7 linked regions of the Homo sapiens genome follow. The protein of the gene in region 1 interacts with the protein of each later gene in a pairwise test. Each region holds a gene or a part of one and is shown in the gene's direction. Other genes may lie near its edges.

Region 1 (3,533 bases):
GGCCCAGATCTCTATGCTGGTTAAAACGTGTGCCCAGATCCCCATCCTGGTTAAAAAACTGCTCATGCCTATAATCTCAGCACTTCTGGGAGGCTGACATGGGAGGATTGCTGGAGCCCAGGAGTTTGAGACCAGCCTGGGCAACACAGTGAGCCACTGTGAGCCATGATCCTGCCACTGCACTCCAGCCTGGGCAACATAGCGAAATACTATCTCAAAAAACAAAACAGGCTGGGCACAGTGGCTCACACCTGGAATCCCAGCACTTTGGGAGGCTGAGGCGGGTGGATCACTTGAGGCCAGGAGTTCAAGACCAGCCTGGCCAACACAATGAAACCCCGTCTCTAATAAAAATACAAGAATTAGCCGGGTACGGTGGTGGGCACCTGTAATCCCAGCTACCCGGGCAACTGGGGCAGGAGGATCAGTTGAACCTGAGAGGCGGAGGTTGCAGTAAGCCAAGATCATACCAATTGCGCTCCAGCCTGGGCGACAGAGCGACTCCATCTCAAAAAATAAAAATAAATAAAACTGTGAGCTCAGCGGCTGGACCCCCTGGGTTCCCACCCCTGCCGTGCCACCTCTTGGCTCTGCGCTTCACCTCTGTGCCTCAGTGTACCACTTTGCAAAACGAGCATATTTAAAACTCATGTCAATGATAGAATGATCGAGAGAGTGCTGTTCTCTAGGCAGAGGTTACCGCAAGCTGGGAGCCACAAGGGGACCTGCCGGGTGATGGAAATGTTCCTTATCTTGATCTCGGTCAGAGGTCAGCACGCGTTTTCCAGAAAGGGCCAGAGAGTCAATATTTTTGGCTTTGTGGGCTAGACAGTCCCTGTCTGCTTTGTAGTTTGAAAGCAGCCACAGACGATATATGTACACTGTAAGCGTGTCTCTATTCCAGTAAAACCTTATTGGTAGTACACGCGGAAGTTTGAACATTGTAGAACTTTCATGGGCAATGAAATATTATTCCTTTTTTTGTTTTTTTTTATTCCCCCAACGATTTAAAAATGTAAAAATCAGTTTACCTGTGGTCCCAGCTACTTGGGAGGCCGAGGCAGGAGGATGACTTGAGCCCAGGAGTTGGAGTCTGGCCTGAACAACATGGCAAAACTCCATCTCTTTTTTTTTTTTTTTTGAGATGGAGTCTCACTCTGTTGCCCAGGCTGGAGTGCAGTGGCGTGATCTAGGCTCACTGCAACCTCTGCCTCCCAGGTTCAAGGGATTCTCCTGCCTCAACCACCCGAGTAGCTGGGACTACAGGTGTGTGCCCACCACACCCAGCTAATTTTTGTATTTTTAATAGAGACGGGGTTTCACCTCGTTGGCCAGGCTGGTCTTGAACTCCTGACCTCAGATGATCTGCCCACCTCAGCCTCCCAAAGTGCTGGGATTATAGGTGTGAGTCACCATGCCCGGCCACTGCATCTCTTAAAAAAAAAAAAAATAGTGAAAGCCATTCTTAGCTCTTACAAACTATAAAAACAGGCTGGCCCACCAGCCAGCATTTGCCAACTCCTAGGCTGGCTGATGGTTTCCTGGGTGGATGCATATGTAACCTGTTCCTCTTGCCCACCTCACTGAATGCATTTTATTTATTTATTTATTTTGAGACAGAGTCTCACTCTGTCGCCCAGAATGGGCGTTGGAATGCAGTGGCGTGATCTCAGCTCACTCCAATCTCCGCCTCTCAGGTTCAAAGATGCCCATGCCTCAGCCTCCCTAATAGCTGGGACTACAGGCATGTGCCATCATGCCCAACTAATTTTTGGTTTTAGTAGAGATGGGGTTTCACCATGTTGGCCAGGCTGGTCTTGAACTCCTGACCTCAAGTGTTCTCCCCTCTGCAGCCTCCCAAATTGCTGAGATACAGGTATGAGCTACTGCACCCAGCCTGAATGCATTTTATCTTTTATCTTTTTTTTTTGAAACGGGGTCTCGCTCTGCCATCCAGGGTGGAGTGCAGTGGCGCAGTCATGGCTCGCTGCAGCCTCGACCTCCTGAGCTCAGGTGATCCTCTCACTTCAGCCTCCCAAGTAACTGGGACTACAGGCGTGCACCACCACACCTGGCTAATTTTTTATAGATCTAATTTTTTAGAAAGTAGAAGTAATGGGTTGGGCATGGTGGCTCACGCCTGTAATCCCAGCACTTTGGAGTCAAGAGATCAAGACTATCCTGGCTAACATGGTGAAATCCCATCTCTACTAAAAATACAAAAATTAGCCGGGCGTGGTGGCGCACGCCTGTAATCCCAGCTACTTGGGAGGCTGAGGCAGGAGAATTGCTGGAATCTGGGAGGCGGAGGTTGCAGTGAGCTGAGATCACACCACTGTACCCCAGCCTGGGCGACAGAGTGAGACTCAGTCTCAAAAATAAAAAAAATAATAATAAAAAATGGACATTGTCAAGCCAGGCATGATGGCTTGCACTTGTAGTCCCAGCTACTCAGGAAGCTGAACGAAGAAGATCGCTTGAGGCCAGAAGTTTGAGACCAGCCTGAGGAACAGAACAAGACCCCATCTCTACAAAAATTAGGCCGGGCGCGGTGGCTGACGCCTGTAATCCCAGCACTTTGGGAGGCTGAGGCAGGTGGATCACCTCAGGTCGGGAGTTGAAGACCACCCTGACCAACATGGAGAAACCCCATCTCTACTAAAAATATAAAAAATTAGCCGGGCGTAGTGGTGCATGCCTGTAATCCCAGCTGTTTGGGAGGCTGAGGTAGGAGAATCACTTGAATCCGGGAGGCGGAGGTTGCAGTGAGCGAAGATCACACCATTGTACTCCAGCCTGGGCAACAAGAGTGAAACTCCATCTCAAAAAAAAAAAAAATGAGCTGGACGTGGTGGTGCATGCCTTTAGTCCCAGCTACTCAGGAGGCGGAGGTAGAGTTGGAGGCTGCACTGAGCTATGACTGCGCCCCTGCACTCCATCCTGGAAGACAGAGCAAGACCCTGTCTCTAAAAAAAAAAATTCAGGTTGGGCATGGTGGCTCACGCCTGTAATCCTGGCACTTTGGGAGGCCGAGGCGGGTGGATCACCTGAGATCAGGAGTTCCAGACCAGCCTGGCCAACATGGTGAAACCCCGTCTCTACTAAAAATACAAAAATTAGCCAGCCATGGTGGTGCAGGCGTGTGGCTGGAGGAGAGTGAGTGAGGGGCTGCGTGGGAGGAGAGGTGAGGACAGAGAGGTCGGGGGCAGATCTTGCAGGGCCTCGGAGGCTGCTGTGGTTATGAGGGCATCTCTGACTCCCCTTACTCTGGCCTCCTCTCTCCGCCACAGAGCTCCCCCATCCAGGAATCCACTGCTCCCGAGCTGCCTTCGGAGACCCAGGAGACCCCAGGCCCCGCCCTGTGCAGGTGACACCACTCCCTGGCCCCCTGTCCACCACCCCTGCCCGCTGTCCTTGTTCTCACCAGTGGCCTCTCTCCACAGCCCTCTGAGGAAGTCACCTCTGACCCTCGAAGATTTCAAGTTCCTGGCGGTGCTGGGCCGGGGTCATTTTGGGAAGGTGAGGTGGAGGGC
Region 2 (3,533 bases), on another chromosome or scaffold:
CACTTTTTAAAAAAATACACAGGAATATGGGTACTATAGTAAATTCAAGTTTCTGTTTATTTTGATTTATGTGCTGTTTTTTTTTTTCCAAGTCCTGTAAGGAGCTGAATAAGTATTAAATTCTGGCATAGTAACAAAACAGAGGAGGAAATGATAACAAAAATAATATAGGGGAAAATAATAGAACACAAAGCAATAGCAAATGCTCATTTCAATAGCAGTGCTTTAGAGAAACTTCAGTTTTGTCTTTGTGAAAGTAAGAGAAGGGTTCAGAGATTAAACATTATTATTCTGTTTGGATTGTTCACTTCTTTTTTTTTAAACTTTAAGTTCTGGGATACCATGTGCAGAACATGCAGGTTTGTTACATAGGTATACACGTGCCATGGTGGTTTACTGCACCCAGGATTGTTCACTTCTTAGAGATCCTTTGCTGTGCTTTAACCTTTATTCCCATCTCCCTACTCCCTATCCATTTCAGCTTCTAAGTGTATCTCAGATGTAGTGGAGTTAGGTGTTAGAGTCAGACACACCAGAGTTTGAATACTAGCTCTGTTACTTTTTGTGTATTTGACAAAATTAATCTCTCTCAGCCTCTTTTTTTTATATATCTGTAAAGTAGGGATAAGAACCATTTCAAATGAATGCTCTGAAGATTAACTGGAATAATTGTGTGTTTGTGAATAAATATAAATGAAGCTGTTCTGAATGTTTTCCATACGTATATATGCCTCCATCCCCTCATTCCCAGTGCATGACCTTGGCATTAGATCAGACAGTAATCGTTTAACCAGCCTCTAGTCTCCAGTGAAGTTCTCATTGCCTTGGGAGTCATTTTTAAATGACTACATTACAATACATCTATACTTTCTAAAATGTAGATCTCACCATCTCTTCAGGATAAACTTTAAGCAACATTTTCTCTTTTAAAGAAGGCTTTTAATGGTCTGTCACAGTCTGCCTCTCCAGCCTGCTTTTCTGTTACTGTCTCCTTTGTTAGTTTTGTTAGTGCCAGACCCTTATTCCCTGACTGTCCTATCCTATTCCCCTTGCCCATCTACTGGACTTGTATTCAGCACTGAAAATCTGACTTATATTTTACTTCTCTTTGAGACATTCTCCTCTTCCCTCTTCCCTCCCCACAACCCTCAGAATAATCATGCCGTGGCTCGTAGAGGCTGTGTGCCATCTCTTTGGTCCATTTGTATCTGTATTCTTAGCACTTAGTATCAGGATTTGCCCGGAGGTGTTGAAGCTGGCAATCATCCTTCCATTCCAACAAGAATAAATATAATTTATCACATATATGTATGAAATAAATGTATTTAATATGTATAATAAATGTTGAAGGTTTTTAAAGAAGTGATGGAATTTGTAACTAATTCATGGAATTTATAACAGTTCAATTCATTATATGCTATTGAAGTAGCAGTCTCATTTTTAATCTCAGAAACTGTTTCTTTCATAATTCATGTTAAATTAAGAAGTCATTTGGGAATTTAAAAAGCATCTGGACTTTCCTCCCTGCCCCCCTTCCACAACTGTCTGTGAATAAATTGAAAGAGGAAAATAGTGCTTACATAATCTTAAACCTTTTCTTTTGACATGTCTTGGAATATTTAATTTCTATTATTGTGATAATACAAGTAAAACAAAATTATACTACAGGATTTATAGATGTTTACTTTTTTTGAGGAAAATCACTCAAAACAATAAGCTTTTAAACCCAAACTCAACAATCATTGCTTTTTGTTCTTAGTGATAGTGCTTGTGCTGATACAATATGATCAAAATATTTGGCCAGTATTAGGAAATGTCCTAGAGATGATTATAATAGTAAGAGCCAGTCTTAATTGGTAAGTGCCAGATATGGTGCTAAGCTCTTTAATTCTCATGACTACCTTAGGAGATAGGTACAGTTTTCTCCCCTTGCCCTTTCGTGTGTGTGTGTGTGTGTGTGTGTGTGTGTGTGTGTGTGAGAGAGAGAGAGAGAGAGGATCTTTCTCTGTTGCTCAGGCTGGAGTGCAGTGGCACAATCACAGTTCGCTATAGCCTCAACCTTCCTGGCTCAGGAGTAGCTGGGACCACAGGCGTATGCCACCACACTCTGCTAATTTTTAAATTTTTTGTAGAGATGGGGTCTCGCTATGTTGCTTTTGGTTGTTGCTTAAACATCTTGGGCACAAGCAACCGTCCTGTCTTGGCCTTCCAAAGTTCTGAGATTACAAGAACCACTGTGCCTGACCTGTCATCTCCATTTTTAGATGAGAAATTGAGACTTAGATCTTCAGGTCACTTTATTAGTAACTGGTGAAGCCAAGATTTGAGACTGATTCCAGAGTACAAGCTATTTCATGAGATAGTGAATACTGGTTAAGTTACCCTGTTGGCTTTTCTTCTAGTAGACAAGTACATTCCTTTATCTACCAGGATTATTTGATCCAATTCTACACTGAAATAGATGAAGATATTTGGGCTCAGATAAGTTACCTGCCCAGGTTCATAGATAGATCTCAGAGCTTGATCAGGAGCCTTAGCTTTCTTCTTCAGGTACTGATGCTTCTACTCTGCTGTGTTGCCATATTACCTCCTTTGTTGGAAATGATTTACTTTCTGAGTGTAGTGCTTTGAGGAATTTTAGTAAACATAGAATTCAAATTATTTAATTTTCACATATATTAAATTGATATGAAAAAAGATAAAAATCACAGCTTTAGTTTTTTTTTTTTTTTCTAAAATTAAAATTCTATGTTTCCCATTTGTCAAGGTAAGTCCAAATTAGGGGAATGTGCTTTTTGTGGAAAAATGGATTTTATTTTTTCTTTTGGACTACTGATATAAATCAAGTTGCTAGATTTCATTTAAAATATGTATATGCATTTTATTCATGTTCTTCAGATGTTTCATTGAAAATATTTTCCCATTAATTCTGATTTCTTGAGTTGTCCTAGGGATGGCTTTTGTTTTCAAGAAACATTTTAAAAATTCACTTTAATTAGAAAAAGTAAATTTCATAAGTTATTAGGATCTTTCTAGGCATTTATTAAATGAGTTAATATGTATGAAATTCTTAGCACCACTATCTGACAACATAGTTAACCTTCAGTAAAGATTGGCTGTTGTTTTTGCTGTGATAGTACTGATTTCGAGAAAGAAAAATTAACAGGAAATGCATATTAGGGATCAGAAGCAAATTGTTTTGATCAACTTTTTCTTGTGGTCTGCAGTCTGCTTTATTACCTGGAGCTCAGTAATAAGGCCAGCCAAGTTGTGTTGGTGATTCACCCATAAGAATTTAATGTGATCATCTTTTTTACATATTGGTCATGATCCTTGACAAGTTTAATTTACTAATTGGGATAATCAGTTGAAATTAGTTCTTTTTGAATCACTCATTGCTTAATGCGAAAGATACTACTGCTTAAAAATAGTAGTTTATTTTACTCTTATAAAGACGTATGTGAAATAAATCTTAAAGCTTCTATGTATTTAAAGGGCAAAAGATTTTCAGACCAGTGAGATTGGCAGCTCAT
Region 3 (3,533 bases), on another chromosome or scaffold:
GTCTGACTGCAGCTTCTTTCTGTGCATTGCCTAGATGGATGATGCTGACCCTGAGGAAAGAAACTATGACAACATGCTGAAAATGCTGTCAGATCTGAATAAGGACTTGGAAAAGCTATTAGAAGAGATGGAGAAAATCTCAGGTAGGATGTGTGAACCCAAAAGTATCTGAGACAGGTCTCAATCAATTTAGAAAGTTTATTTTGCCAAGGTTAAAGATGCACCTGTGACACAGCCTCAGGAGGTCCTCAGGACATATGTTCAAGGTTGGCAGGGTACAGCTTGCTTTTATACATTTTAGGGAGAGAGAATACATCAGTCAGTACCTGTAAGATGTACACTGGTTCGGCCGGGCGCGGTGGCTCACTCCTGTAATCCCAGCACTTTGGGAGGCCGAGACGGGTGGATCACGAGGTCAGGAGATCGAGACCATCCTGGCTAACACAGTAAAACCTCGTCTCTACTAAAAATACAAAAAATTAGCTGGGTGTGGTGGCAGGCACCTGTAGTCCCAGCTACTCGGGAGGCTGAGGCAGGAGAATGGCATGAACCCGGGAGGTGGAGCTTGCAGTGAGCCGAGATGGTGCCACTGCACTCCAGCCTGGGCGACAGAGTGAGACTCTGTCTCAAAAAAAAAAAAAAAAAAGATGTACATTGGTTCGATCTGGAAAGGTGGGACAACTCAAAGGGGGATGATTCCAGGTTATAGATAGATTTAAATTTTTTCTGATTGGCAATTGGTTGAAAGAGTTATGGTCTAAAGACCTGGAATCAATAGAAAGGAATGTCTGGGTTATGACGGTAAGGGGTTGTGGAGACCAGAGTTTTATCATGCAGATGAAGCCTCCGGGTAGCAGGCTTCAGAGGGAATAGATTGTAAAAAGCTTTCTTATCAAACTTAAGGTCTGTGTTCATGTTAATGCTAGTCACCTTTTCCTGAATTCCAAAAGAGAGGCAGGTATAACGAGGCATACCCAATTTCTCCTTCTCCTCACGGCTTGAACCAACTTTGGCCAAGCAATACACCCACCTTGGCCTCCCAAAGTGTTGGGATTACAGGTATGAGCCAGCGTGCCTGGCCAAATAGCTTTTATTCACTAGAGCAGACTTTAGAAAATTTCTCCTTAGAAATGTTTGCAATTTTTTGCCTATGTACTTTTGAACTATGAATAGCTGAGACACGTATCAGTTAATTTAGAGAGTTTATTTTGCCAAGTTTGGGGACACTTATCTGTGACACAGCCTCAGGGGGTCCTAATGACATGTGCCCAAGGTGGTCAGAGCACAGCTTGGTTTTATTTATTTATTTATTTATTTTAAGACAGAGTCTCGCTCTGTCGCCCAGGCTGGAGTACAGTGGCGTGATCTCGGCTCACTGCAAGCTCCGCCTCCCGGGTTCATGCCATTCTCCTGCCTCAGCCTCCCGAGTAGCTGGGACTACAGGCGCCCGCCACCACGCCTGGCTAATTTTTTGTATTTTTAGTAGAGACGGGGTTTCACTGTGTTAGCCAGGATGGTCTTGATCTCCTGACCTCGTGATCCGCCCGTCTCGGCCTCCCAAAGTGCTGGGATTACAGGCGTAAACCACCGCGCCTGGCCTTGTATTTTTAATAGAGACAGGGTTTCACCATGTTGGCCAGGATAGTCTTGATCTCCTGACCTTGTGATCTGCCCGCCTCAGCCTCCCAAAGTCCTGGGATTACAGGTGTGAGCCACCGCGCCTGGCCTTTTTTTTTTTTTTTTTTTGAGACGGAGTCTTGCTCTGTCGTCCAGGCTTGAATGCAATGATGTGATCTCAGCTCACTGCAACCTCCGCCTCTCGGGTTCAAGTGATTCCCCTGCCTCAGCCTCCTGGGTAGGTGGGATTACAGGCGCCTGCCACCATGCCCAGCTAATTTTTGTATTTTTAGTAGAGACGAAGTTTCACCATTTTGGCCAGGCTGGTCTCAAACTCCTAACCTCAGGTGATCCACCTGCCTTGGCCTCCTGAAGTGCTGGGATTACACGCGTGAGCCACCACGCCCAGCCAGCAAACAGTTTTATGTAGTGAAAAATCTATCAATATTTTCCTTTCTGATTTATTGCCATTATTTTGACACCTAGAAAGTCTTTCCTCAATCTGAGATCAGTGAAATATTTAGTTGTATTTTCTTCTACTTTTCTCCGTATTCCTTTTTAACATTTAATCCTAACCCATCTGGCATGCCAAATGACCTACGCTGCGTATTGCTTTTTTTTTTTTTTTGAGACAGAGTCGCGCTCTGTTGCCCAGGCTGGAGTGCAGTGGCACAATCTCGGCTCACTGCAAGCTCTGCCTCCCGGGTTCACGCCATTCTCCTGCCTCAGCCTCCCGAGTAGCTGGGACTACAGGTGCCCGCCACCATGCATGGCTAATTTTTTTTGTATTTTTAGTAGAGATGGAGTTTCCCCGTGTTAGCCAGGATGGTCTCAATCTCTTGACCTCATAATCTGCCTGCCTTGGCCTCCCGAAGTGCTGGGATTACAGGAATGAGCCACCGCACCCAGCCGCATATTGCATTTTTATATAAATCTGCTACAGGCTGGGCACGGTGGCTCACACCTGTAAACCCAGCACTTTGGGAAGCCGAGGCAGGAGGATCACAAGGTCAGGAGTTTGAGACCAGCCTGGGCAATATGGTGAAACTCCATCTCTAATAAAAATACAAAAATTAGCTGGGCGTGTTGGTGGATGCCTGGAATCCCAGCTACTCAGGAGGCTGAGGCAGGAGAATCACTTGAACCCAGGAGACGGAACTTGCAGTGAGCCGAGATCATACCATTGCACTGCAGCCTGGGTGACGGAGCGAGACTCTCTCTTCTGTGATAGTCCCTGGGCATAGAGGGAGGGTGTTTGTATCGTTTTAGCAGCAGGGCATTTGCAGTGTAACAGATCCGGGCCCAGTGCGATGCCAAATGAGGGAGATTCATATCTTTGGTCATCTGCAGAATACCATGATTTTAGTTTCCTTGGAAGCAAAATGAGGGGAGATAAGTTTGACAATTATAAGAGTAATTTGTGCATTAGAACAGAAAAAGGAACCTATTCCATTAGGGCACCAACGAAAAATATGAGGAAAAGTTACAATCTGGTCCTCTCTAGAGGATTATTGTAGCCAAGAAACAATGATTTAATTTGCACTCAAAAAAACGTTATGGCTGGGCGCAGTGGCCTGTAATCCCAGCACTTTGGGATTTTATTTATTTATTTATTTATTTTGAGACAGGGTCATACTCTGTCACCCAAACTGGAGTGCAGTAGTGCAATCTTGGCTCACTGCAACCTCCACCTCCCAGGCTCAAGGGATCCTTTTTTTCATCTCAGCCTCCTGAGTAGTTGCAACTACAGGTGCACACCACCATGCCCAGCTAAATTTTGTATTTTCTGTAAAGACAGGGTTTCAACATGTTGCCCAGTCTGATCTCAAACTTCTGAGCTCAAGTGATCCACCCACCTCAGCCTCCCAAAGTGCTGGGATTATAGGTACCAGCCACCTTGCCCGGCCAGCCACCTT
Region 4 (2,524 bases), on another chromosome or scaffold:
CACATCTAAAAATACCTTGACAGCAACATCTAGACTAGTACCTAGCCACACAACAGGCACTGTAGCCTAGCCAAGCTGCCACATAAACTTAATGATCACACCACTTACCAGCTGTTGGAAGGCAGTTGACCCAACCTCTCTCTGAGCCTCCATCTTGTCACCTGTTAAAATGGGAGTGATAACACCTTGCCTCATAGGGTTCTTAAGAGGATTAAATAACATAATGTACATCAAGGCCAGTACCTCCAAAAAAGGAGATAATTATTATATTTCTTCAAGCATAAGATCAGCTTTTTGTAAGATGCACTATTATTTTATGCACTAATAAGACTTTTTAGAAAACTAAATCATGAGGCAGTTTGCAAGATACCATTGATTATATGTTGCATTCTGATTTCAGAAGCGTTACATGTCAAAATATGTATATGTAGAATTGATGAGATATAGCATCAGCTGTTATGAAAAATGTCAGATTCGTACTCCTCCTTGAAGGGAGTCTCACTCAAGACTTCTGTCTTGCCCTCTACCTACCCAGCTTCCAGCAGGAGAACCACCCCAGAGAGCCGGTGTCACTGTGGGGCTGAGACATTTGCTAAGTGCAGATGCCTTTGATTAGACAATTAGGGGAGGAATGGGAAGATGAGCTCAGGGCCTGAGGCTGCAGCCCAGACCCAGGAGTGTGTTTGACACCGCCAAGGGCGGGGCTGAGGGCAGTGCTCACCACCCGCTGTGTGCAAGGCTAGGTGAGGCAGGAAGCTCTAAGTTTTGGGGATTCAGAGACAAGGCAAGTCTTGGGTTGACCAAGAGCACCCACCTCACTTTGGACAAATCCCTCCCTCTTTGGGCTTCCATTTCTCCATCTGTTACTATGGAGATGGTCAAGTTGGTGGATGGTTCTAAGCTCTTGGGGCGGGGGGAGACTGTGCCACAGAGGCTGTGACCTCTGTGGCCTTCAGCCAGAGGGATCCACTTGTATTTCTTCCACCCTTGGGCACTCCCATGTAAGATTGTGTTAATTCCCATGCTGGAGGACAGCTATGAAAGCTTTAAAAAGCACAAAGATAGTCTTAAAGTTCCTCCCAGGGCTGGCATCAGGTTAAATTCAGAGGTTTTCAAGCCTGAGCAAGCTGCAGAATGACCTGGAGCCTTCTCTAGGAGGGGTGGGGACCTGGAATCTGCACTTTAGCCAGCTTCTTGGTCATTCAGGCATATGATTTCTTTGTTTGTTTTTTATATTTCAGTTGTATTTTTATAACTCCCCAGTTTAGTTTGATTTTTTAAATTTTTATTTTATTTATTTATTTATTTATTTATTTATTTATTTATTTATTTTTTGAAACAGGGTCTCACTCTGTGGCCCAGGCTAGAGTGCAGTGGCACAGTCACGGCTCACTGCAGCTTCAACCTTCTGGGCTCAAGTGATCCTCCCACCTCAGCCTCCTGAGTAGCTGGGACTACAGGCACCTGTCACCATACCCAGCTAATTTTGGTATTTTTTGTAGAGATGAGGTTTCACCATGTTGTCCAGGCTGGTCTCAGACTCCTGAGCTCAAGCAATCTGACTGCCTCGGCCTCCCAAAGTGCTGAGATTACAGGTATAAGCCACTACGCCTGGTCCAGCTTGTTTTGAAAAGTATTTTCTGACGTCTATATGAATTTAACAGAATTATCTCAAAGTACACAGAAATTACCTGTATTTGCCAGTAAATATGAGATGCTGATGAAAGAATACTCAATATACCAATATTTAAGCATGTCAACATAATAGAACTTTTTCCACCTTTTAAAATTATTTTTCCCACCTAACCCAATTTATATTTGACATTTGGGTTACATGTGCATATAGAAACAGACCTATTCCACAACTGACCATAGATAAACTAGCATGCAAGTGTCCTTTCTGGATGTAATTAAGTTTCAGAGGCAGCATGGTTCAAATGGGAGCAAATGAGCTGACCTCCTCATGAAATACACTAGGCAAAAAATCAAGAAGTATTAAAGTTGCTAAAGACTGATTCCAGATCTTTTATTTCTTCCTTTTTCTTTTTAATTTTGAGACAGGGTCTCACTCTGTCGCCCAGGCTGGAGTACAGTGGTCCGATCTCGGCTCACTGCAACCTCTGCTTCCCAGGTTCAGGCAATTCTCCTGCCTCAACTTCTCAGGTAGCTGGGAGTACTGGTGCGCGCCACCATGCCCGGCCAATTTTTGTATTTTTAGCAGAGACAGGGTTTCACCATGTTGGCCAGGCTGGTCTCAAACTCCTGGCCTCAAGTGATCCACCCGCCTCGGCCTCCCAAAGTGCTGGGATTACAGGCATAAGCCACCCGCCCAGCCTCTTCCCTATCTTTTAAATATACAAGTGTGCACTGTGGGTGTGTGTGAATTAAGACGATTCTGGACTGTGAGCTCCTATGGGCGGGGCTATTGTCACTCTATAAAAAGCCCTAGGGCAAAAAGATGGAGGTAGTGCAGGGAGCAGAGGGCGCCTGTCCTCCATCCAGCCATCATCAAACCCACCGAAGA
Region 5 (3,533 bases), on another chromosome or scaffold:
AGTGGCACAAGGCTTACTGCAACCTCTGCCTCCCAGGTTCAAGTGATTCTTCTGCCTCAGCCACCTGAGCAGCTGGTATTCAAGGCACATGCCACCAAGCCCAGCTAATTTTTGTATTTTTAGTAGAGACGGGGTTTCACCGTGTTGGTCAGGCTGGTCTCGAACTCCTGACCTCAAGTGATCCACCCATCTCAGCCTCCCAAAATGCTGGGATTACGGGTATGAGCCAATGCACCTGGCTGCTTGAGGTTTTAAATCTGGGGGTTGTAAAGACACTTAACAGGTAGAGTGGAAGGGAGTGATTTAGGAGGAAGGGTGATGGGATGGCTGTGTGTATGTGAGTAGTCTAAAGCCTGTTTCCTTGGATTGGAGGAAGGGAACAAGGAGGGGTGTGTGGGCAGACAGCCTTGACACGGAGGACTTTTCAACTCAAGATGCAGATGGAAACAAGGTGGAGGAAAGGTTTCTTGGGACTATGGGACATAAATGCTGTCCTTCTGTATGTCCTATTTTTCCAGTGTTGTAGAGTCATGACCTGCAGTGGACCTGCACTTTTTTTGTCTTTAAATTTTTAAATTTAAAAATACTTTAAGTAAAGATGGGGTCTTGCTATGTTGTCCAGGCTGGTTTGAAGTCCTGGCCTCAGGCAATTCTGTCTTGGCCTCAGAAAGTGCTGGGATTACAGGGCGTTGAACCACTGTACGTGGCCTCAACCTGCACTTTCTAAGAAGGGAAGCTGTGGGAGGAGGGGTTTCTCTTGGAGAGCCAGGACGGATGATGTCAAGAGGCTTGAAGTGGTTGGGGGAGCAACGTGGATTGCTCCGTTGCCTGACTAGGTCCCTTCCTTTTTAGCATTTCTGCTGTGCAGTGGCTCTGTAATGCTAACAAGAAGTCTGAAAACCCTGCCAAGCGCCTGTACTGCTTTTTTGCTTCTCTTTTTTCTGTTCTCGTGAGTATAAGATCTTCTCCCCATCTGGGTTAGCTGCCTGTCCCTCCCTAGCACTGCAGGTAGAGTGAGGAAATTGAGGTGTCCCATGATGGGTAAGCTACTCATATGGGACCGCATGGGGTGGCAGGACCTTACTGTGGTTACTTCTGTCCAGGTCCTCAGCCTAAATGGAAGTTCAAGCTCAGTGGACTGATATACTCTAATCAAACCCAGAAGTCACTGATACCAAAATCGGAGACCAATTTATTAACTTGTAATAGGGCCTACTTCTGTTGATTGGTATTCCTATGTCTATTGCGCTGAGTTTTAATCAGAAGTTGGTTTGGGGGCATGGACTGAGCAGAGTGAGGACAGAGATGTCGTGTCCGGACCATCCAGAGGGGTACCTTCCAAAGTGCCCACATCCTTCTGACTCCTCACTTATCCCTCCTCCTAGTGCTGATCCTTTTCTTCGGATGAGGAACAGGATAGTTATTTACTGCAAAGAGAGCCTTTATTAGCTTTGTCTTCAAATTAATGATGTTAATTTCAGTTGTTCACTAGGATTAGCTGATAGTCTGAGATTTTAAGTCCTAAAAATGAGTTCTTTTTAAATTTTGTTTTTTGAGACAGACTTTTGCTTTGTTGCCTGGGATGGAGTGCAATGGTGTGATCGTAGCTCACTGCGCCCTCGAACTCCTGGGCTCAAGTGATCCTCCTGCTTCAGCTTCTCAAGTAGTTTGGACTACAGGCACACACCACCATGCCAGGCTAATTTTTTACTTTTTTTTTTTTAAGAGATGGGGTCTACCTATGTTGCCCAGGCTGGTGTTAAACTCCTGGCTTCAAGCAATTGTCTGGCATCAGGCTCCCAAAGTGATGGGATTATAGGCGTAAGCCACTGTGCCCAGCTTAAAAATGAGTCCGTTTTGAAGGATCTGAGTGGTTTTTGCCTCCTTAGCCTGGTCTAGCCCACCCCTAGTTTTCCTGGGGTGGACTGCACCTGCCGATCTGGCCACTGGTCTTTCTTGGGGTGAACTGCCCCTGCTGATGTGGCCGCTGGTCTTTCCTGGGGTGAACTGCCCCTGCTGATGTGGCCGCTGGCCTTTCCTGGGGTGGACTGCGCCTGCCTATCTGGCCGCTGGTCTTGTGTGTCACATGAGTTCTCCTCCTGGCACACTGGGTTAATATTTTAGTTCTGAGGTCCTTTGTGTTTCCTCTTCTCCCTGCTGGAAGGCTCCTCCCTTATATGTTTAAATAGCCAGCTCCTCACTCCATTCAAATCTCTGCTCAAGTATCCATTTGAAACAGGCCTTTTTGGAACCAAAAGTAAACTGAACTGAAAGGAAACTCTGTCACTTTGTCTAATTCCTCTTTTTGTAACAAAGAAAAAATTTGCTACTGTGAATTAGTTGCCTCCTTTACTAAAATGTGAGCTCCAAAGTTCAGGGTGATCTCTTTTGTTCATACTATCCCCAGCCCTAACAATGCCTCACACATAATGGAAATTCAGGAAATACTTGGTGAATGAAGGAAGAGAGGGGTGTCCAGGCCCTAAGCTCATGCAGTCATTTGTAAGACAGTGATGTTCCTGTTTCTTTCAGGTCCGGGGATCCCGAGCTGTCCTGCAGCTGTACCCTGAGAACTCAGAGCAGGTGAGTCCCTCGGCTACTGGGTGTGCCGGGGAGTTGGGGGACTCAACAGGTAAGCTGTCCTGGGGAAGCGACAAAGAATCTTATGCAGATTGGCGGGAAAAGGAGGAAACATGCACCCTAGTGTGGCCCCTGATGGCACATTTGATGACCTGATATCCTAAGGGGGTGGCATCTGCGGAGGTGGGGTGGGATGCCTTCTCTTGGCAGATGACATGGTATTACAGATAAGGTGATGCGACTGATTTCCATAACCAAATAAGTAAATGCCATTTAGGAAGGGTGAGAGGGCACCGACAGTTCTCCGTTGTGTGATGTATAAATTAAGGAATGGCGGAGTAGGATGTAGATGTTGAAAGATAAGTGAAGAGCTGTTCCTGACTAATAACATGAATGACTCTGGATTCCAATTGGTGGCCATCTCCCTAAACTTGAGTGGGGAGCTGGGTCCCTGCACTGGAAAGTGAGAATGAGGGGAGTTGCTTTGTTCTGTAATTCTCCTGAGGGAGGTGTGGGCCATGCCAGATTCTAGCCTGTACTTTTCTCTACGTGGCTTACAGCGACCTTAAGTTCTCCCAGGCAGGATTTGTCCTGGAGCAGACTGGCTTCTGAAGGAGGGGAGGGAGGTGAAGCTGTCTGCTCCTCTCAACCTCCGCTGCCTGACCCGCTGCCTTTCTTTCCTCAGTTGGAGCTGATCACAACCCAGGCCACAAAGGCAGGCTTCTCCGGTGGCATGGTGGTAGACTACCCTAACAGTGCCAAAGCAAAGAAGTGAGCGCTGGGGGCCGGTGTGCTGCCTGGGCTGCAGGAGGGAGGGTAGTGGCATAGCCCTTTCAGGCCACTCAGTGGTGCAGAGGAGTGCTGGGGTGTGGGTCACCAGGGTCCAGGCAGGCGGAGGGGGTGCGGGTGGGGGAGCTGAGGGCTTGTCTCCCTGTGGGGCTTTCTCCACCCAA
Region 6 (3,533 bases), on another chromosome or scaffold:
CTCAGTAATTTTCAATCCTATCTGAACATTAGAATCACCTATAGAACTTTTTTAAAAGGAGAGGAGAGTGAGAGAGGGAAGCAAATAATATCCAGGTCCCACCCTAGACTGATTAATTCAGTTTCGACAAGTGGGTGAGACTCAGTCCATCGCTCTTATTAAAAATTCCCCAGATTATTTAAATGTATTGCCAAGCTGTGAATCACTGCCTAAAATCAGCATCTTTTCTGAGAGCACCACTTCTATTAGAGGCCATTCTTTCTGTCACATTTGATAAACAACAGAGAGAGGAGTGCCAGCATTTTTCTTGCATATCTCTTTATTTATGTGAATCTAAATATATGTCTAGTTTTACTGCAGCAGTCCATCCTTTTCCATCCTTTGTTTTCCATCATTATCTCACTAGGACCTTGACGTCCCACTTAAAGTCACTTTCTCCCCCATAACTCCTACCATCATTCTGTGAGATCCCAATATCCATATGGTTGATGTATCCATTGCCATAGCTAAAGAATTTCTGCGTTCCTCAATTCACTCCAGCATCATCCATGGTGACACCCAGAGCTTGCTATCACCCACCATGGTTTCATCAGAAAAATCATTGACTCTGCCATCCCAGCCTCTTTCTTTACAGCTTATATTCTCATGTTTATCACATACACCATACCAAGGGTTTTTATATTTCTGGTGTTGTTGCTGTTTTATTTTCGCTTTACCTTAAAGGGATATCTAAATTATTTATTTCCCCTCATTTTTCTGCCAGTCTTTTCAGTCCCTGTTGCCTCACTTTCTTCCTGGACCGAATGGTTGACCTATACTACATTAATATATTTATTTCCCTTGACCCCCAGTCTGCTGCATTGTCCCAGTAAAAATCCTAACCCTAGATTGAGCTCTCACACTGCTTTCTCTGCTTTTTAATCTCTGCACTTGAGCCCTGCTACAAATGGATGATTTCTATTTCTGTTAGGGCCTCAACATTTCAGGAAAATCTTTTTCTTTTCATTTCTATTTCGAATTCCCTCAATACATACTCCAAACCTTCACCTCTCTTCTCAATACCTGCTTTACTCACTCACAAGAATGACTGTATCTCCTCCTACACCAAGGAAATTGAAATTGAAGCATATTCTTTCTCAACTCTGCCTCCCTCAACTCTACCACCTCTAAACTCACTTAGCCAATAGCAAAAAGCCATGGAGTTACTGATCAAATTACTTTCTTGAAATATCTTCTCAGATGTTCCATAAGCATCTCAAGCTGCAGTTAATTTTTCCCACCCTTCCCCAATCCTCCTCTGTATTGCTTATCAACCCAAAATTCTGGCAGTCATTCTTGACTTTTCTCTCCCTCTCTCTTACATCAAGTTCTACCCTTTTTAAATCCTAAATATTTCTTAAACTATGTCTTTCCGTTCCTACTACCGCTTCTCTATTGCAAACCTTCATCTCTCACCAGAGCTGTTTCAGCAGCCTTCCAACTCATCCAGTTTCTTGAAGCCCATTCTCTAAATGGTGCCAGAGTAATTTTTCATAAATTCTGGTTGGATCATATCATTTTTCTCCTGAGAGCCTTTCAGTGACTCCACCTTGGCCACAAGATAGAGTTCAAGCCCCTCAGCATGGAAAACGCAACCTTTCATGATCTGACCTGCCCTGTCTTACCTGCTTCATCTCCGTTCCTCCCTACCACACACCCAAAGTTTAATGCTGTAACAATACCTAGCTATTTAACTTTCCCAAAATATGAACTGAAGTTTCATTTGTTGGTATATTTGCTAATACTTTTTTATTTTACCTAGAACATTCTTACATTTTTCCTTATCTTTCAAGGTTAAGTTTGAGTATTTCAGGAATCTCTCTTCTGTTATGCAAATAAAGTTAGGTGCCTTGCCCTTGCACTCTCATAACATCCAGTATATTCCTGAATTACTGCATTTGGCATATGGTATTAAAAATTCTGTTTCCACGTCTGTCTCCCCCACTAAAATCTCTTTAAGAATAGGAACCAGGGCTGGGCCGGGCTCGGTGGCTCACACCTGTAATCCCAGGACTTTGGGAGGCCAAGGCGGGCAGATCACCTGAGGTCGGGAGTTCGAGACCAGCCTCACCAACATGGAGAAACCCCATCTCTACTAAAAAATACAAAGTTAGCCGGGCATGTAACAAAATTACAGGCATGGGATTGCATGCCTGTAATCCCAGCTACTCGGGAGGCTGAGGCAGGAGAACCGCTTGAACCCGGGAGGCAGAGGTTGTGGTGAGCCGAGATTGTGCCATTGCACTCCAGCCTAGGTGACAAGAGAGAAACTCCGCCTCAAAAAAAAAAAAAAAAAAAAAAAAAAGAATGGGAACGAGGGCTTTCTCATGTTTGTATACCCAGCACCTAGCATAAAATAAGTCCTCTGTAAATGTTTGTTTTCCATTTTGCCCAGCCCAGTCTCACAGTACATATCAGGCCCATAAAGTGTGTTCTTCAGTCAATATCTGATGAATATATAAGTGAATGATTGATTAGGAAATTTATTAAAAAGGAATAAGGAGAGCAGAAGTTGAGACAACTGAGATTTCTTATGAGTGACTGGGAGGATGGTGATATCATTAAGTGAGAATGGAAACAGAAGGAGGAAGTAGTTTCAAGATAAAGATACTGGATTGCTTTAGCAAGAGTTGGTTTGGGAGGCAGGAATAGACATCGCTTTACAGCTTTTCATCAGATACTTGATCAGGTCAGCAGTTTTGGCAAGCACTGTGAACTAGAAGAATCTGTTTAGAAATCGTACTTGCAGATATAGAGGTGTGGCAAGGATCACCAAGAAAGTACTAAGAGGGAAGAGGACAGGGACAGACTTTTGCAATGTCTGCATCTAAGGGGAAGGAAGAAGTCTCCTAAAACCAGAAAACCAGTCAGGATAATGTGTTATGAAGACCAAGGGAGAAAACATTTCAAGAAAAAATGTTTTCTTGAATTTCTTGAATTTCTGTAGGGTGATCTAGTAACAAGCAAGACTGTTCAAAGAAGAAAGGCCTTTTGATTTGTTCTTTAAAAACAAGTTCTAGTCGGTATGTCTGTTAGAATAAATTATTGTTTTCTAGACGTTCAGCAGACAAGGAGAGAGGAGATGGTAATGGAAGGGACATGGTGAGAGTTTTTTGTTTGTTTTTAAATTATAAAATGCATGCCTATTGGAAGAAATTAAAACATTCAGAGTTATATAAATTAAAATATAAAACTCTTCCCTCTATTTCTTCTACTCCCTTCTAGTTTGACATTTATCCATCCAGAACTTTAAAAATATTTTTGTATATTTTTATTTTTATAAAAATGAGATCACATTATATACTCTATAATTGCAAATTGCTTTTATTTTAATAGCATGTCATGAAGTTTCTTCTCATCAGTGTAAAGAATTACCTCATCCTAGCCAAGTGTGGTGGCTCACACCTGTAATCCCAGCACTTTGGGAGGCCGAGTGGGCAGATCACGAGGTCAGGAGTTCAAGACCAGCCTGGCCAACATAGTGAAACCCCATC
Region 7 (3,533 bases), on another chromosome or scaffold:
TGTTGCCACGCTGGCCACTGCTGGACCACTGGCACCGTGTTCGCTATGGCATGGCTGAGGCTGTGTGGCGCCCCTCCACAGCCGCACCACCAGAGAACACCCAGTGCCAGCACTTAGTCACTTACTGCCTTGCCTGCCTGGGGAAAGATCCTGGAGAAGGTGGCCTCATTGGTTTGCAGCTCTGCTGGGGGTCCAGCCACAGCCCAGGAGTGACTCTGACCGAGGTGTTGGCCCCACAGACCAGCCGTTGTCTCTGTTGGAGGCTGAGGGCCACAGCACAGTGCCCACTACTTAGCCAGCAGGCCGTGGCCACCTTAAGAGGCCAGGGGAAGCTGGCGGGGGAGGGCGTGTGGGCTGCCAGCCTCCACCCTGGACATGATGGTGTGGGGCATGGTCCCCTGTGTCCCCCTTCCTGTGAGTAGGGGTGGCCCTGCTTCTTGGCCCATGTGTCTGTCCACACAGCAGACTTGGTCCGGTTTCCTCAGTGCACTGGGGTCCTGCAGAGCTTGGGGAGGCAGCACAGGGGGCGGGGGGCGCAGCAGTGACTCATCTGCCCTCCCTCGAGTAGGGGCCGGCCAGGACGTGGGCCGAAGCTGCATCCTGGTCTCCATTGCGGGCAAGAATGTCATGCTGGACTGTGGAATGCACATGGGCTTCAATGACGACGTGAGTCCCTTGGGCAGGAGGCCCAGAGGCTGGGAGAGCCGGCCATCCACAGCTGGACCCTGGGCCTCAGAGCCGGGACAGTGGGGTGGTGGGCAGCAGTGGTTGTGCTTGGATGGCTGCACCCTGTGGGGAGCAGGGATGGGTGGGCCTGGCCGAGGTGAGCCCCTGCATGGTGGGGTCCCCCTGTGCTGGCGCTGAGCCCCAGCCCCGGGGTCCTGTAGGCTGGACTCCGTGAGACCCTGGGCTCAGCTTCCAGCTCACATCTGTCAGTGAGGTTGGGGGTAACCTCGGCCCCTCCGGATGCTGTGAGCAGCCAGGGGTCCTGGTGCCACCTGCGGGATGGGAGTGCCCAGCCTGAGTCTGCACATAGAACCCCCCTTCCTGGGGGCCCCTCCCTGGGGCATGGGTGGCCCCAGATGCTGCCTGGAGACCACTGTGCAACCTGAAACCCCCACATCCTTCCTAGCGACGCTTCCCTGACTTCTCCTACATCACCCAGAACGGCCGCCTAACAGACTTCCTGGACTGTGTGATCATTAGGTGGGTTCCTGTTGGGGGCCTTGAGGGTCCCATGTCTGTGCCTGTGGGGCTTGGGCCACCTTGCTTGGTCTCGGCAGCGTTTGGCAAGGGGCCTGTGCCATCCTTGATCCTCAGGGGGCTTCTAGGCCCCAGGATCTGCTCCCTGCCTGCCTTACTGGTCACACACATGGCCTGGTCTCTGTCTGTTCTTCCGGCCCTGCCCTCTGAACCCTACTTTCTGAACCCGGCCCTCCAGGCTTCACCCTCTCTGATGCCTTCACTGTCTCAGGATCTTTAAACCCCACTGTCTTGTTGGCGATTCCAGAGTCCCGAGTCTGCCCTGACCCCAGCCTTTAGGGTTCAGCAGCTCATGACCCGCTGGTCTGGGTGGCCTCGTCTGGACGGCCACAGCACTCCTGCTGGCCCCCTGCCCTTCCCTGCCCTGTCCTCCCCAGCAGCCAGGCCCGTGAAGCCTGGAGAAGCCCCTTCTCCTCTCCGGAGGCAGTGTCCTCAGCTGCCCCTGAGCCCCTCGTGGTTGTGGTTTCTTCTCAGACACGGTGGGGTCCCCAGTGCCTTCCTGGGGCTTGCCAGGCGCTGCCCTTGCCCTCAGGTCTGTGCCACCTTCACCTGCAGCTCCACTCAGCCTGTCCTGACTGCCTGAAAAGCCAGCGGCTCCCCTATGCGCGGTTCCCTCAGCAGCTTTGCATTGTCTCGCGAGCATGTCGCCGTCACCGACGTGTTCAATTTCCCGTTTGCTTATTGCCTTGCTAGACTTTGAGACTGAAAGTTCCAGGGAGACAGTTTTGTGTTTGCTCATTACTGACTCTTCGGTACTCGGGATGAGGCCTGGCGCACAGCAGGCGAATGAAGGGGCCAGTGACCCACAAGCCCAGAGCGGGGGTGAAGGCTGGGGCAGGGTGGGCCCAGGCTGACCTGTGCTGCGTCCCCCTAGCCACTTCCACCTGGACCACTGCGGGGCACTCCCCTACTTCAGCGAGATGGTGGGCTACGACGGGCCCATCTACATGACTCACCCCACCCAGGCCATCTGCCCCATCTTGCTGGAGGACTACCGCAAGATCGCCGTAGACAAGAAGGGCGAGGCCAACTTCTTCACCTCCCAGATGATCAAAGACTGCATGAAGAAGGTGGTGGCTGTCCACCTCCACCAGACGGTCCAGGTCAGGTTCCCAGGGCCACAGCTGGCACAGTCACTGCCCACCCCCACACCAACCATGCCCTCCGCCCGTTCTACACAGTTTCTGGAAGGCTGGGGCCTCAGGGTGAGCCCACCCCACCTCACTCTTGCGTCCAGCACCGTGGGGACACCAGGAGGCGTCAGCGCGAGGATGCGGGTCCCAGACCAGACTGGGCGCCGACCCGGGAGAGCACGTGCAGGGTGGGGGTATGCACCGGCTTATGAACCCACCAGGCTCTGTCCGAGCGGCATTGAAATGGCCAGAGTGGGACAGGCTGGTGCCCTCAGAGCGCTTGGAGCGGCCAGAGACTCGCTGGAGCTCCCGGGGTGTTGCCGGGCAGGGAGGCAGGGGCTGGAGGGGAGATGGGCCAGCTCTGGAGGGTGCCTGGTTCTGGGTGTGGGTCAGGGAAGAAGTGAAGGTTAAATCAGCGAGTGACAGGTGAAATTCCATTTCTGACAAAGATTATGGGTTTGTCTGTGTCTCACTCGAATCTCTGGGTATTGCTTTTATATTTCTTGAAACTATATTAGGTACCTATGTATTTTGGAACATTTAATTTTCTGATTGAACTTGTCAAAATGAAGTATGTTTATCTTTTTTGTTGTGAAACTTTAATTTTTTTTTTTTTTTGACAGTGTCTCACTTTGTTACCCAGGCTGGAGTGTGATCTTGGCTCACTGCAGCCTCGGCCTCCCGGGTTGAGGTGATCTCCCACCTCGGCCTCCCAAGTAGCTGGGACTACAAGCATGTGCCCATACGCCCAGCTAATTTATTTTGGTATTTTTTGTAGAGATGGGTATGTGTTGCTAAGGCTCTCGAACTCCTGGGCTGGGCTCCAGGGATCCTCCCACCTCAGCCTCTCAAAGTGCTCGGATTACAGGCATGAGTCACCACACCTGGCAACTCCCTCAGTACATTTTAAACCCAGAAAGACATCATTTCTAATGCCTGGTAACACCAACATTTGCTTAGTTTTATTTATATATTTATCCTTTTTGTTGGGCTTCCTGCATTTTTTCTACTTTTTACTTGGGATAATTTGCCTTCTGCCTGAAGAATATGAGTGTGGGTCTGCTGGTGCTGAATTCTGTCAATTTTTATTTGCCTTGGCCAGGCGCGGTGGCTCACGCCTGTAATCCCAGCACTTTG

The links.
Region 2: the proteins of PKN1 (region 1) and RAB3IP interact in binary tests that used the Homo sapiens proteins (3 or more experiments, as listed by UniProt).
Region 3: the proteins of PKN1 (region 1) and SYCE3 interact in binary tests that used the Homo sapiens proteins (3 or more experiments, as listed by UniProt).
Region 4: the proteins of PKN1 (region 1) and CCNJL interact in binary tests that used the Homo sapiens proteins (3 or more experiments, as listed by UniProt).
Region 5: the proteins of PKN1 (region 1) and BUD23 interact in a two-hybrid assay, tested with the Homo sapiens proteins (one large-scale study listed by BioGRID and IntAct).
Region 6: the proteins of PKN1 (region 1) and KIAA1328 interact in binary tests that used the Homo sapiens proteins (3 or more experiments, as listed by UniProt).
Region 7: the proteins of PKN1 (region 1) and INTS11 interact in binary tests that used the Homo sapiens proteins (3 or more experiments, as listed by UniProt).

The regions. Positions count from the first base shown.
Region 1 is NC_000019.10:14,464,275-14,467,807, forward strand, and holds part of PKN1 (serine/threonine-protein kinase N1), read left to right. Parts: intron 1-3,290; coding exon 3,291-3,367; intron 3,368-3,443; coding exon 3,444-3,519; intron 3,520-3,533. UniProt on the Homo sapiens protein: PKC-related serine/threonine-protein kinase involved in various processes such as regulation of the intermediate filaments of the actin cytoskeleton, cell migration, tumor cell invasion and transcription regulation.
Region 2 is NC_000012.12:69,745,355-69,748,887, forward strand, and holds part of RAB3IP (rab-3A-interacting protein isoform alpha 1), read left to right. Parts: intron 1-3,533. UniProt on the Homo sapiens protein: Guanine nucleotide exchange factor (GEF) which may activate RAB8A and RAB8B. Promotes the exchange of GDP to GTP, converting inactive GDP-bound Rab proteins into their active GTP-bound form.
Region 3 is NC_000022.11:50,552,907-50,556,439, reverse strand, and holds part of SYCE3 (synaptonemal complex central element protein 3), read left to right. Parts: intron 1-34; coding exon 35-143; intron 144-3,533. UniProt on the Homo sapiens protein: Major component of the transverse central element of synaptonemal complexes (SCS), formed between homologous chromosomes during meiotic prophase.
Region 4 is NC_000005.10:160,248,574-160,251,097, reverse strand, and holds the end of CCNJL (cyclin-J-like protein), read left to right. Parts: 3' UTR 1-2,015; downstream 2,016-2,524.
Region 5 is NC_000007.14:73,690,064-73,693,596, forward strand, and holds part of BUD23 (18S rRNA (guanine-N(7))-methyltransferase), read left to right. Parts: intron 1-852; coding exon 853-949; intron 950-2,532; coding exon 2,533-2,583; intron 2,584-3,265; coding exon 3,266-3,351; intron 3,352-3,533.
Region 6 is NC_000018.10:37,154,109-37,157,641, forward strand, and holds part of KIAA1328 (protein hinderin), read left to right. Parts: intron 1-3,533. UniProt on the Homo sapiens protein: Competes with SMC1 for binding to SMC3. May affect the availability of SMC3 to engage in the formation of multimeric protein complexes.
Region 7 is NC_000001.11:1,318,129-1,321,661, reverse strand, and holds part of INTS11 (integrator complex subunit 11), read left to right. Parts: intron 1-568; coding exon 569-666; intron 667-1,132; coding exon 1,133-1,206; intron 1,207-2,137; coding exon 2,138-2,366; intron 2,367-3,533.